2 linked regions of the Homo sapiens genome follow. The protein of the gene in region 1 interacts with the protein of each later gene in a biochemical or structural test. Each region holds a gene or a part of one and is shown in the gene's direction. Other genes may lie near its edges. The genes, in order: MMRN2 and CD93.

Region 1 (5,879 bases):
CACCCAGACACAGGGCTAAGTACAAGGCCACCATCTTGGCCATGTGCAGCCTGGCGTGTGGCAAGTCCAAGGCCTTGTTGAAGGTCCCGTCCCAGGCAGCCCCTGCCCCAGCTGACCCTCCCTATGGCCCAAGAGGCAATGTGGAGCAGTGGGAAGCACCCAGGCTCTGGCATCACTTGTCTGTTTCTTCCTCAGTAAAATGGCAGAATCCCTACCCATGTCAAAGTTTTGTTATGAAGACTGCTGCGTTTACCAAATACCTAGCACGAGGCTTACCTCATGTAGGAACGCAGTCAACGTTTTCCCATTTCCCCAGCATTTTCAGGGTTCAGGTTGTGTCCACCGACACTGACACTTCTCTCTTGTTTCCTCTCGTGCGTGGTGCAAGGCTTCAATATGCTGATGACTTTCAGAATTTGCCCCACGGTTTGGAAATGTGTTTACCACGACGATATTTATTTCAAAAAAATGTTGTTCTTAAAAACAAATTTCCAGGCCGGGCGCAGTGGCTCATGCCTATAATCCCAGCAGTTTGGGAGGCCGAGGCGGGTGGATCACTTGAGGTCAGGAGTTCAAGACCAGCCTGGCCAACATGGTGAAACCCCATCTCTACTAAAAATACAAAATTAGCCGGGTGTGGTGGCGGGCGCCTAATCCCAGCTACTCGGGAGGCTGAGACAGGAGAATCACTTGAACCCGGGAGGCAGAGGCTGCAGTGAGCCGAGATTGCGCCACTGCACTCCAGCCTGGGCAAGAAGAGCGAAACTGTCAAAAAAAAAAAAAAAATTAGCCCGGTGTGGTGGCAGGCACCTGTAATCCCAACTACCTGGAAGGCTGAGGCAGGAGAATCGCTTGAACCTGGGAGGCAGAGGTTGCTGTGAGCCAAGATAGCTCCATTGCACTCCAGCCTGGGCGGCAGAGTAGGACTCTGTCTCAAACACACACACACACACACACACACACAAACACACACACACACACACACACACACACACACCCCAAATTTCCCTTTATTTGTTTGTAGGAAGGCTGTAGGGCTTGAATGTGTGCCCTGCAGGGAAGCACACTCTGAGTTTGCACAGCCCTTCCCGCATCTTAGGGCCTGTCAGGCGCAAGGCTGGGTTGGGGTGGGGGTCTCTCTCTGCGGCGGAACTCCCTGCGCAGGCGCCCGGACGGAACGGCCGGAACGAGGGCCTAGCACCGGTAGAGGGCGCTGCGGGCCGGCCTTCCTTCGGCTAGGCAAGAGAACCACCTGCAGGGTGTTAGGGGAATTGCAGAGGCAGCCGCCGGCCTCTGACTTGGGCACAATCTTTTTTTTTTTTTTTTTTTTTTTTTTTTTTTTGAGACGGAGTCTCGCCCTTTCGCTCAGGGTGGAGTGCAATGGCACGATCTCGGCTCACTGCAACCTCCGCCTTCCGGGTTCAAACGATTCTCCTGCCTCAGCCTCCCGAGTAGCTAGGATTACAGGCGCCTGCCACCATGCCCAGCTAATTTTTGTAGTTTTAGTAGAGACGGGATTTCACCATGTTGGCCAGGCTGGTCTCTATCTCCTGACCTCGTGATCCGCCCACCTCGGCCTTCCAAAGTGCTGGGATTACAGGCGTGAGCCATTGCGCCCGGCATTTTTTTTTTTTTTTTTTTTTGACGGAGTTTCACTCTCGTTGCCCAGGCTGGAGTGCAACGGCGTGATCTCGGCTCACGGCAACCTCCGCCTCCCGGGTGCAAGCGATTCTCATGCCTCAGCCTCCCAAGTAGCTGGGATTACAGGTATGCCCCACCACGCCTGGCTAATTTTGTATTTTTAGTAGAGATGGGATTTCTCCATGTTGGTCACGCTGGTCTCGAATTCCCGACTTCAGGTGATCCGCCCGCCTTGGCCTCCCAAAGTGCTGGGATTACAGGCGTGAGCCACTGCGCCCGGCTGATTTGACACAATCTGAACACAAATGAGAAAGCTATTCTCAGCTGTCTAATTCTCAGAAAATCTTCCAGAACTAGAGAAAAGCAACATTTTTTTATTCACAAAGGCTTGCTGGATTGGGAGTCAAAGAGCTGAGGCTTGAGTTCCGGGACCCAAGTCAGTAATTGCTCAGCAAACTGCTCCTCTGAAGGCTTTGGTTTTATCACCTAAGAAATGGGGACCTTGTTTTAAACCCCTACAGAGGGAGCAAGTTGAGGAACCCCATGGTGGACATGACCTCGTTGGTGCCAAGGCCAGTGTCACAGCCAGGACCCAAGTAGGACTTACCTTTCCTGTGCCATCTCATGACCCTGTCCCCAGCTGCCCAACCATGCTGTCCAGGCAGCAGGACTGGCTTCTTCCTGGCTGTTTGTACACCCTCCACACATGGCAGCTTCCTCTGCTTCTGTGCCCGTGCATGGGCCTGGCACCAGTGTTCTGTCAGTGTTCCTGTCCTAAGGCTGGCCAAAGTGGTCCCTGCAGAGAACCAGAAGTCTAGAGATTCAAGGTCTGTTCCCAGGAGGCTTGGTAATTTACTAGTTGTGTGGTCTGGAGCAATAAGCTTTTTCTTTCTGGGCCTCAATTTACCCATATGTAAGATGACCAGCTTGGCCAGTAACAGTGGCTCACACCTGTAATCCCAGCACTTTGCGGGGTTGAGGTGGGAGGACCGCTTGAGCTCAGGAGTTTGAGACCAGCCTGGGCAACAGAGCAAGACTCTGTCTCTACAAAAAATAAAAAATTAGCCAGGCATGATGGCGTATGCCTGTAGACCCAGCTACTCAGGTGGCTGAGGTGGGAGGATTGCTTGAGCCCAGGAAGTTGAGGCTGCAGTGAGCCATGATCGCCAATGCACTCCAGTCTGGGCAACAAGAGACCCTTTATCAACTAAAAAAAAGAAGACCAGCTTGAAGGGGCTTCTCTTCCCTGGCTCCACCTGCTCTTTCCTTCTTTCTCCAAGGTTCTGTCTTCAACATCCAGGAGGATCCAGCCTTCATGGCTCTGCAGATACCTTCCCAGTGTTAGCATTATTATTACCTTGAGGATGGATATTTTCTCCCTCTCCCCTGAGTATCTCAAGATTCCTAGCAAGTGGTGGTCGTCTGGGAGTCAGAGACCCGTGTTCCTGTCCCAGCCTGCCATTTACAAACCATGTAGCCTTGGGCAGCCGGTGAAGGATTCAACCTGTTTTGTCAATCAGGGATACTGTCTCTCAAGGAAGTTGGAAGGAAAAGGGATCAAACGAGAAAGTGCTTTGTGGCTGGGCATGGTGGCTCACCTGCAAGCCCAACATTTTGGGAAGCTGAGGCTGGAGGATCACTTGAGCCCAGGAGCTCCAGATCAGCCTGGGCAACATAGTAAGACTCCATCTCTACGTTAAAAAAAAAAAAGGGCTGCAGTGAGTCATGACCACTGCTGCACTCCAGCCTGGGAGACAGAGTGAGTCCCTGTCTAAAAAAAAAATGAAAGTATTTTGTTAAAATGTACACCAGCTCAGACAACAGACTTGCATTTTCCTTCCTCTCTATTAGTGAAAAACAGAATTGGCCATCTAGCTTTTCTCCTGCAATAACACTGCTGTTGGGAATATCTAGGTTATCTAGAAATAGTGACCTATTTCCATTGCTAATAAGGTGAGGACGGTAGGTCTCAGGGTTTAATTTCCCACCCAATGGTGTAAGGGATGAATCACTAAGCACTGTCCTGTTATGTTTCAGGATCCCCTGTGGCCTTCTATGCCAGCTTTTCAGAAGGGACGGCTGCCCTGCAGACAGTGAAGTTCAACACCACATACATCAACATTGGCAGCAGCTACTTCCCTGAACATGGCTACTTCCGAGCCCCTGAGCGTGGTGTCTACCTGTTTGCAGTGAGCGTTGAATTTGGCCCAGGGCCAGGCACCGGGCAGCTGGTGTTTGGAGGTCACCATCGGACTCCAGTCTGTACCACTGGGCAGGGGAGTGGAAGCACAGCAACGGTCTTTGCCATGGCTGAGCTGCAGAAGGGTGAGCGAGTATGGTTTGAGTTAACCCAGGGATCAATAACAAAGAGAAGCCTGTCGGGCACTGCATTTGGGGGCTTCCTGATGTTTAAGACCTGAACCCCAGCCCCAATCTGATCAGACATCATGGACTCGCCCAGCTCTCCTCGGCCTGGGGCTCTGGCCAAGGATGGGCTGGAGGTCATTCAGTTGGTCTGTCTCTTCCCTGGAAACCTTCTGCAAAGATGGTGTGGTGTACGTGGCTTCCCTGTAACCACATGGGGCTTGGCCATTTCTCCATGATGAGAAGGACTGGAATGCTTCTCCGGGCAGGACATGGTCCTAGGAAGCCTGAACCTTGGCTTGGCATGCCTTCTCAGACAGCACGGCCTGGGCTCCAACTCTTCACCACACCCTGTATTCTACAACTTCTTTGGTGTTTTGCTCCTCCTGTGGTTGGAAACTTCTGTACAACACTTTAAACTTTTCTCTTGCTTCCTCTTCTCTTCTCCCTTATCGTATGATAGAAAGACATTCTTCCCCAGGAGGAATGTTTAAAATGGAGGCAACATTTTGGCCAACATTGGAAAGCACTAGAGGGCAATGGGATTAAACCAACCTGCTTGGTCTCTATTAGTCAGTAATGAAGACGACAGCCTGGCCAACCAAGGGAAAGGAAATTAGTATCTTTAGTTTCAGTCATTCCTTGTAGGATATGGTTTAGCTGTGCCCCCACCTAAAATATCATCTTGAATTGTAATCCCTATAATCCCCACATCAAGGGAGAGATCAGGTGGAGGTAATTGGATCTTGGGGGCGGTTCCCCCATGCTGTTCTTGTGATAGTTCTCACGAGATCTGATGATTTTATAAGTTTGATAGTTCCTCCTGTGTTCATTCTCCTTCCTGCCACCTTGTGAAGATGCCTTGGTTCCTCTTCACTGTCTGCCATGATTGTAAGTTTCCTGAGGCCTCCCCAGCCATGTGGAACAGTGAGTCAATTAAACCTCTTTCCTTTATAAATTATCCAGTCTTGGGCAATTCTTGATAGCAGTGTGAAAATGGACTAATACACTTGTGTTTATCTGTAATTTAAATTTCATGTCTTTTTCTCCTTGCCTTACATAGGGTAAAGACCAAGAAATGCCAAACGTGAACTAAAATATGTAGGGCCTTCAACTTTTTTACTTCCTCCAGTATCTTAGGACCATCGTAATTCTTGTTAGCATCTCTAACCAGGAGGCAGCTGAGGGAGGAGGGAAAGAAGACTGTAAAAATCCCCCTCACTAATGATCAACTTTGGAATAAAGTGATGCCCTTCAAATCTCTGCCTCATTTACTTCTGGAGGGCAAAAATAATTGGTAGAGTAGGTAAAAAAAACATGGGACAACGTGAAACTATGTGGGTAAATGTGACTGATTATTCCAGGCCCTGTTATGTAGAATGATTTCCGTTTATTCTATATAAAACACTTGGAAGTTTCCACACTAGGCAAAGATACTAATACTGGACTAGACAGTACAGCTCATAGCTGCAATTATTCCTGTAATATACCAGCATATGGTTTTCAAAAAAGTTCAGATCCTATAGCAAACTGGCCTGAGAAAACAGTCATCTAGCTATCAGAAACAAGGTTTTTTTTGGTATTAAGTACTCAAAATTTGTTGAATATAGTCTTCTCTATAAGAAAATCAGATTGCTGAGGCAGGAGAATCGGTTGAACCCGGGAGGCGGAGGTTGCAGTGAGCTGAGATGGTGACACTGCACCCCAGCCTGGGAGACAGAGCGAGACTCTGTCTCAAAAAAAAAAAAAAAAAAAAATCAGACTGGACTTCGTAGTGAGTTGCTTGTTGGCGTTAACAAGGTTATCAGCACTTCTCATTGTTTGCTAGGAGTTATTACTTCACTTGTTCCTCAGAATTTATTTAGCACTAAGTT
Region 2 (7,841 bases), on another chromosome or scaffold:
TCTGTGCCACTGTTGCTCATTGTGAGTCTACCATATACCATGTTATGCCAGGAAATACGCAGTGTGCTTTGTTTCCCTTTTTAATTTAATTTTTAGTTACAAAAAAAAAAAAAAAGGAAAAAGACAGGCCGGATGCCTGAATGATCCACAAACCAATTAGTCTGCTCCCAAATAACTGAGATTAAACTCGCCCCATATTTGAGATCAGAACATTCCATTCCAGCATCGTGCAAAGTAAATTTTTAAGGCAATTTAAAAAGAAAGCTCAGAGTACTCATAAAGACTGCAGAATACACACAAATGGTGAGGAGCCTTTTGCTCAGGGTACATGCCATGCTGTTAGGCTCGCCATGGTTCTAGAACACCTAACGTGGCTTCCGTCCAAAGATCTGCCGAGAAAAACTTTTTCCATCTCCTTCTGCTGATTCCTGCTGTTTAAGTATCGGTCCTTGGAGAGGTCTGGTATAATCTGCTCTCTAAATAAAATGGGATGAAACACCATCCATGGGGAATTTAGTATGTGAGGTGCAGAATTCCCTCAAAGTTTGCATTCAGACTATCTTAAATTCTTTGTAAAACTCCACCAAATCCCTCCCAGGAAAAGCAAGCTCTTCATCCTCCCCTGAGGTCGAAGCACCATGCCCTCAGCCTCTACGAATCCCCTGAACAGCCTCTAAGGAGCGTCCCCTATAGGTGGGAGCGGACACAGAAGGGCGGGGCTGGAGCTAGAGAACCTAGCTGTAAGTGTCCCAGGTGAATTAACCCACCTGAGCCCAGCAGGGATCAGCCAAAGGGTGAAGGGACACAGTGGAAGTCAGATGTGGGGGACAAGGAATAGGAAACTACCCTGTGTCTTGGCAGTCAGCGGGTCAATTTGGGATGAAATTGGGTGTGTGCAGTTTAGACAGAGGTTTGCTTACATGTGCAGTATGTCGAGGGCTCAGCAATGGTCTCAGTGTCCACTCTCTTCCCAACTTGCTTTCTCCCTAATTCCAGAGGGGAGAGTTAAGCATGATTTCACTTTTATTAATGTTAGAGCAAGAAAGTTTCCAGAGGCCCTGTTCCCACCTCTGCATTTATAGATGAGAAGTGGGGCTGAGTTAACCAAGTTACTGAAAATAATAAAGTAAAATCCAAGGACCCCCAGGGCAAGGCAGTTTCTGCATTTTACATAGTCTTTCTCACTGTTGGTGCTTTACAAATACTTCCAAGGTTAATGGATAAAAAACAGAGTATATGTCTTGCTAGTTCATTTTCTTCTTTAAGATGTCATCACTTGGCTAAGTGAACAGTAATTGGTTTGAAAGTTCCCACATGGAAGATGAATAACTTACAGCTAAAGAAGATATCTTGACAAAGATCTGGGGGTCAGAGTGGCTAACATGCTGAAAGTCACTCATTTAGCCCATATCCTTAAGCACCAACTAAGTAGAATGCTGAGCGAATGCTGCAGATCACAATCTACCTCTGAGGAATCTACCTCCGAGCTGCACAAACAGGGGCCTAGACCACGAGAACGGCTCCCTGCTATGAGTGGATGCTAGGGCTGCAGAATTGATTTTACAGAATGTTAAGAAGTTACCTGCTTGTAAATAAACCCTTAGAAATGAAGCTTCTCCCAAGCAGAGAACAAGACTGACCCTTGCCAAACTCAAATGCATGGCCAGCTATATTGACTGGGAGCCAGGGACACCAGCCTTCCCTGGACCCCTCACAGCTGGCTGCTTACCCAGCTCTGGTGGCACACTTAGCGTCCCGAGGAGGCAGGTCACAAGGACAGGGGGTCTGGGAGACCCTGAGCCCCAAGAGGCAATCCCCTGTGTTCTCAGAACCAGGTACCTCCAGCGGACACAGCCTTCCAGGACCCCAGCTCCCGGCAGGAGCCATGCAGTCCTTCTGCGTGCCCGGTGCCCTTCCCCCCACCTCCACCCAGCCCCGAGAACATCTGACCTGGACTCCACAGCCTGGAAACCTGCGGCCACCTGCTGAGGGCCCCCCCACCCACTGCTTGGGTCCACTGACCAGTCCCCTTCCACATGTAGGCCTCATGCCAGCCCTCAGTGTTTCCCCGTGGATTTCAAGACGAAGCCTCAAGCCTTCATTACTGGGGTTCACAGGGCTCCATCTTCCCCTGCATCCTCCCTCCCACTGCCTGGGCTTTGGTCTCCCTGCCCTTCACTCACTCTCTGTCCCCAGGGCTTCTGTACATGCTGTTCCCCCATCCCGACACCATTCCACATCTGAGCTGCTTCTCCTTTAGATTCCGGCTTGACTGCCTGTCTTCTCCAGAGGAGTCTCTCCTAATTGCCCATCCCCCAGTCAGGATGCCACCCCTGTATCAACCACGACCTCCCCGCTCCCCTGTGCTGCCTGCAATAAAGCCATCAGTGCCGTGACTTGTTCAAAGTTGTCCACTCTAACAGGACTCCAGGATCACAGAGGCAGGGATCCCCTCCTGGAATCCAGTGCCTCACTCAGTGCATAGCAGGGTCTTAATCAACAATTGTTAGATGGGTGGATGGACAAACAGATGGATGAATGAAGGGGCACAGGGAGGGTCTGGTGGCTTCTATGGAGAGTTCCCAAAATGTCTCAAATATCTTTGCTAAAATGCAAGGACTTAAGGCACATTCTTAGGAGGTATCCAGCTGGAGTCAGAGATGCCTCCTTGTCCCTTGGGGAGCCAGCGAGCTCCTAGCCCCCGGGACAACTCAACATCTCCATGGAGGCCACTGTGGTGGTCGCTGGTGCCGGGTCCACAGGCGTTCACTGTGTTCTCCACCGTGGCGCTTCTTCCCCTGGGGCCCTCACGGTCAGTGCAGAGCACCAAAGAGTTGCCGCTGTGTAGAGAATTCTTATAATTGTGCATTGCATCCATTTTGAATCTAATTTGGACCCTCTCCTACCAGAAGCAGGGTTTATTGCTCTTGACACGGTGTCTAGGGCTCCACCCCCTCCCAGTTCCTCAATGCGGCCAACCCAGATATCTGCCTTGTACACCCACCTCCTGGTGACCATTTCCCTGTGGGACAGGCAGATACAGCCCATTTGATGGTCTCAGTGACTCCACACCCCACAGGGACTTCCCAGACATGCCGCCATGCCCACCTCTCAGCCACAGGGACCCCACGGAGCCCGTGTCTGTTTGCTCTAAACCCACCAGTGAGAAGTCCCCTTGGGAAACCTGCTTGGGAAACGTCCTGGACCCCAATAAAGGCTTAGGACCCAGGTCTCTCTCTCTCCCTTCACCCCCCTCCAGGTGAGTGTTTGTGACCCAGACAGCTCCCCACTTTTTGCTGGCCCCGTGGGGTGCACTGCCCTCTCCCTGGGATCTGTAAGTGACACGGTGCTTGTGTTGCTTCCTGTGTCTTCTTGTGCTGCCTCCTGCATCTCCCCTGACCCACACCCCAACCCAACTCTCCTCCCATCAGGGATCTCTTAGGAAGTGGCTGTCTTGATAGGAATAAACTGGACATGGGTCAGACGAGAGCCACAAGGGTGTCTGTCCATAGAAACAAGTTTTATGTGAGAGAGACCCCTGGTCACTGGGCAGGGCTAGAATTTATAGTCAGTCTCTCAAAGTGAGAGATACAGCCTGCTACCAATGACAGGGGACTTGGAGAGCAGTGGAGCCTCTCCCTCAGCTGAGATGGTGCTGAGGTGTGGTCCCCTCAGGCCCCCAGAGTTTCCTGGCACTGGCTCCAGCAGCCCAGGGTCACCTTCTCAGCAAGTCATCATGGGTTGGCTTCCTCCTTGTCTGTTTCACTTCCCCTCCCACATAAACTAGTCTCCCCAAATCCTGTCTCAGGGTCCCCTCCTGGGGGATCCCAACCAATGAGCAAAGGTCTGTGGCTGCAGGAAAAGCACACTGTGAGTCCCTGGCTTTTGCCGAGTCGCGGTGTCGCGGGAGGGCCTGCCCGGGCTTCGATTCCCGCTCCCTGCCCAGATTTCCGGCCCTTGCTAGGAATCCTGAGCCGGGGGAAGTGAGCCTGCAAGCCCTGCGCCACGAGGCCGGACACATTTTCATTTTCTTTCTGATGCTTTTTGTGACCCTGACACCTCACAATGCAATATTTCCACTATGAAACCCCCAGAACTGCCAAATTTCACCCAATTTGGATTAACATTATCGAGGAGCTTGGCATTATGTTGAAAACCCAGACATTCCCACGACCCGTATCCTATTTAAAAAATGCCTGTCTATTTAAGGTTCACGATGGGAGGATAAAAGAAAAAAGGCTCCCAAAGTCAACAGAGAACATGAGCTAGGCAAAAGGAAAGTCCAGTTTGCTTCTAAAAAAGGCTGAAAATTATAACCATCCATGGCCTTGTGTCTTAAGTCTCAGAATTTTTTTTTTCTCTTTTGGTGGTTTGCAAACCAAAGTGGAATTTTATTATGGGTTACTAAGGGAGCTTCCTCGAGTTCCTAGCCCCCAAAGCCCCTGCTCACTCCATGGCATGCCTCCGAGGCTCCTCATGCCATGAGAAAGAGAATGGAGCCAAAATCAAGCCGGCAGTATCTCGGGGCTGTAACGTCTTCCCCCCGTCGCTGTTTCCACAGTGCTGAGCCAGGGACCCGGCAGAGCTGCCTGACTCCTTTTATGAACAACAGCACCGTGATGAAGGCAGCAGGAGTCAGAGAACTATTCATTGCAGGAAGCCCCAACATCCGGTGAGAAATAAGAAGTACAACAGTACAGGATGCGCCTTGGGTCAGGGGGACGTGGAAAGCCCTCAGCCTTTGTGTCCTTCTCTGCGCCGGAGTGGCTGCAGCTCACCCCTCAGCTCCCCTTGGGGCCCAGCTGGGAGCCGAGATAGAAGCTCCTGTCGCCGCTGGGCTTCTCGCCTCCCGCAGAGGGCCACACAGAGACCGGGATGGCCACCTCCATGGGCCTGCTGCTGCTGCTGCTGCTGCTCCTGACCCAGCCCGGGGCGGGGACGGGAGCTGACACGGAGGCGGTGGTCTGCGTGGGGACCGCCTGCTACACGGCCCACTCGGGCAAGCTGAGCGCTGCCGAGGCCCAGAACCACTGCAACCAGAACGGGGGCAACCTGGCCACTGTGAAGAGCAAGGAGGAGGCCCAGCACGTCCAGCGAGTACTGGCCCAGCTCCTGAGGCGGGAGGCAGCCCTGACGGCGAGGATGAGCAAGTTCTGGATTGGGCTCCAGCGAGAGAAGGGCAAGTGCCTGGACCCTAGTCTGCCGCTGAAGGGCTTCAGCTGGGTGGGCGGGGGGGAGGACACGCCTTACTCTAACTGGCACAAGGAGCTCCGGAACTCGTGCATCTCCAAGCGCTGTGTGTCTCTGCTGCTGGACCTGTCCCAGCCGCTCCTTCCCAGCCGCCTCCCCAAGTGGTCTGAGGGCCCCTGTGGGAGCCCAGGCTCCCCCGGAAGTAACATTGAGGGCTTCGTGTGCAAGTTCAGCTTCAAAGGCATGTGCCGGCCTCTGGCCCTGGGGGGCCCAGGTCAGGTGACCTACACCACCCCCTTCCAGACCACCAGTTCCTCCTTGGAGGCTGTGCCCTTTGCCTCTGCGGCCAATGTAGCCTGTGGGGAAGGTGACAAGGACGAGACTCAGAGTCATTATTTCCTGTGCAAGGAGAAGGCCCCCGATGTGTTCGACTGGGGCAGCTCGGGCCCCCTCTGTGTCAGCCCCAAGTATGGCTGCAACTTCAACAATGGGGGCTGCCACCAGGACTGCTTTGAAGGGGGGGATGGCTCCTTCCTCTGCGGCTGCCGACCAGGATTCCGGCTGCTGGATGACCTGGTGACCTGTGCCTCTCGAAACCCTTGCAGCTCCAGCCCATGTCGTGGGGGGGCCACGTGCGTCCTGGGACCCCATGGGAAAAACTACACGTGCCGCTGCCCCCAAGGGTACCAGCTGGACTCGAGTCAGCTGGACTGTGTGGACGTGGATGAATGCCAGGACTCCCCCTGTGCCCAGGAGTGTGTCAACACCCCTGGGGGCTTCCGCTGCGAATGCTGGGTTGGCTATGAGCCGGGCGGTCCTGGAGAGGGGGCCTGTCAGGATGTGGATGAGTGTGCTCTGGGTCGCTCGCCTTGCGCCCAGGGCTGCACCAACACAGATGGCTCATTTCACTGCTCCTGTGAGGAGGGCTACGTCCTGGCCGGGGAGGACGGGACTCAGTGCCAGGACGTGGATGAGTGTGTGGGCCCGGGGGGCCCCCTCTGCGACAGCTTGTGCTTCAACACACAAGGGTCCTTCCACTGTGGCTGCCTGCCAGGCTGGGTGCTGGCCCCAAATGGGGTCTCTTGCACCATGGGGCCTGTGTCTCTGGGACCACCATCTGGGCCCCCCGATGAGGAGGACAAAGGAGAGAAAGAAGGGAGCACCGTGCCCCGTGCTGCAACAGCCAGTCCCACAAGGGGCCCCGAGGGCACCCCCAAGGCTACACCCACCACAAGTAGACCTTCGCTGTCATCTGACGCCCCCATCACATCTGCCCCACTCAAGATGCTGGCCCCCAGTGGGTCCCCAGGCGTCTGGAGGGAGCCCAGCATCCATCACGCCACAGCTGCCTCTGGCCCCCAGGAGCCTGCAGGTGGGGACTCCTCCGTGGCCACACAAAACAACGATGGCACTGACGGGCAAAAGCTGCTTTTATTCTACATCCTAGGCACCGTGGTGGCCATCCTACTCCTGCTGGCCCTGGCTCTGGGGCTACTGGTCTATCGCAAGCGGAGAGCGAAGAGGGAGGAGAAGAAGGAGAAGAAGCCCCAGAATGCGGCAGACAGTTACTCCTGGGTTCCAGAGCGAGCTGAGAGCAGGGCCATGGAGAACCAGTACAGGTAAAGGGGGCCCTGAGTGACCGGGGGAGGGGATGGGCAGGCATGGGGGCACTGACTACAGTACAAAGAGGTGGCAGCAAGAGCAGGCCCAGGTTTCCTGTGGGCAGACACACCCTGGTCCTTGCAGCTGACCCCTCAACCTCCCCCCACGCCAGGCACTCGGGCCCCCTTAGAGCATACTGCCCATCTGCAGCACGGCCGCACGTGGGGCTCTCTCCCAAGGTGGGGACGTGCAGGCACAGAGGCGCCATGGCTTCCAACGCTGTCTGTTTTGTTTCCCATAGTCCGACACCTGGGACAGACTGCTGAAAGTGAGGTGGCCCTAGAGACACTAGAGTCACCAGCCACCATCCTCAGAGCTTTGAACTCCCCATTCCAAAGGGGCACCCACATTTTTTTGAAAGACTGGACTGGAATCTTAGCAAACAATTGTAAGTCTCCTCCTTAAAGGCCCCTTGGAACATGCAGGTATTTTCTACGGGTGTTTGATGTTCCTGAAGTGGAAGCTGTGTGTTGGCGTGCCACGGTGGGGATTTCGTGACTCTATAATGATTGTTACTCCCCCTCCCTTTTCAAATTCCAATGTGACCAATTCCGGATCAGGGTGTGAGGAGGCCGGGGCTAAGGGGCTCCCCTGAATATCTTCTCTGCTCACTTCCACCATCTAAGAGGAAAAGGTGAGTTGCTCATGCTGATTAGGATTGAAATGATTTGTTTCTCTTCCTAGGATGAAAACTAAATCAATTAATTATTCAATTAGGTAAGAAGATCTGGTTTTTTGGTCAAAGGGAACATGTTCGGACTGGAAACATTTCTTTACATTTGCATTCCTCCATTTCGCCAGCACAAGTCTTGCTAAATGTGATACTGTTGACATCCTCCAGAATGGCCAGAAGTGCAATTAACCTCTTAGGTGGCAAGGAGGCAGGAAGTGCCTCTTTAGTTCTTACATTTCTAATAGCCTTGGGTTTATTTGCAAAGGAAGCTTGAAAAATATGAGAAAAGTTGCTTGAAGTGCATTACAGGTGTTTG

The links.
Region 2: the proteins of MMRN2 (region 1) and CD93 form a complex in vitro, tested with the Homo sapiens proteins (one study listed by BioGRID).

Annotation. Positions count from the first base shown.
Region 1 is NC_000010.11:86,934,925-86,940,803, reverse strand, and holds the end of MMRN2 (multimerin-2 precursor), read left to right. Parts: intron 1-3,678; coding exon 3,679-4,061; 3' UTR 4,062-5,264; downstream 5,265-5,879. UniProt on the Homo sapiens protein: Extracellular matrix protein that plays significant roles in the vascular system and is required for the maintenance and stability of blood vessel.
Region 2 is NC_000020.11:23,083,227-23,091,067, reverse strand, and holds the start of CD93 (complement component C1q receptor precursor), read left to right. Parts: upstream 1-4,743; 5' UTR 4,744-4,875; coding exon 4,876-6,809; intron 6,810-7,093; coding exon 7,094-7,118; 3' UTR 7,119-7,841. UniProt on the Homo sapiens protein: Cell surface receptor that plays a role in various physiological processes including inflammation, phagocytosis, and cell adhesion.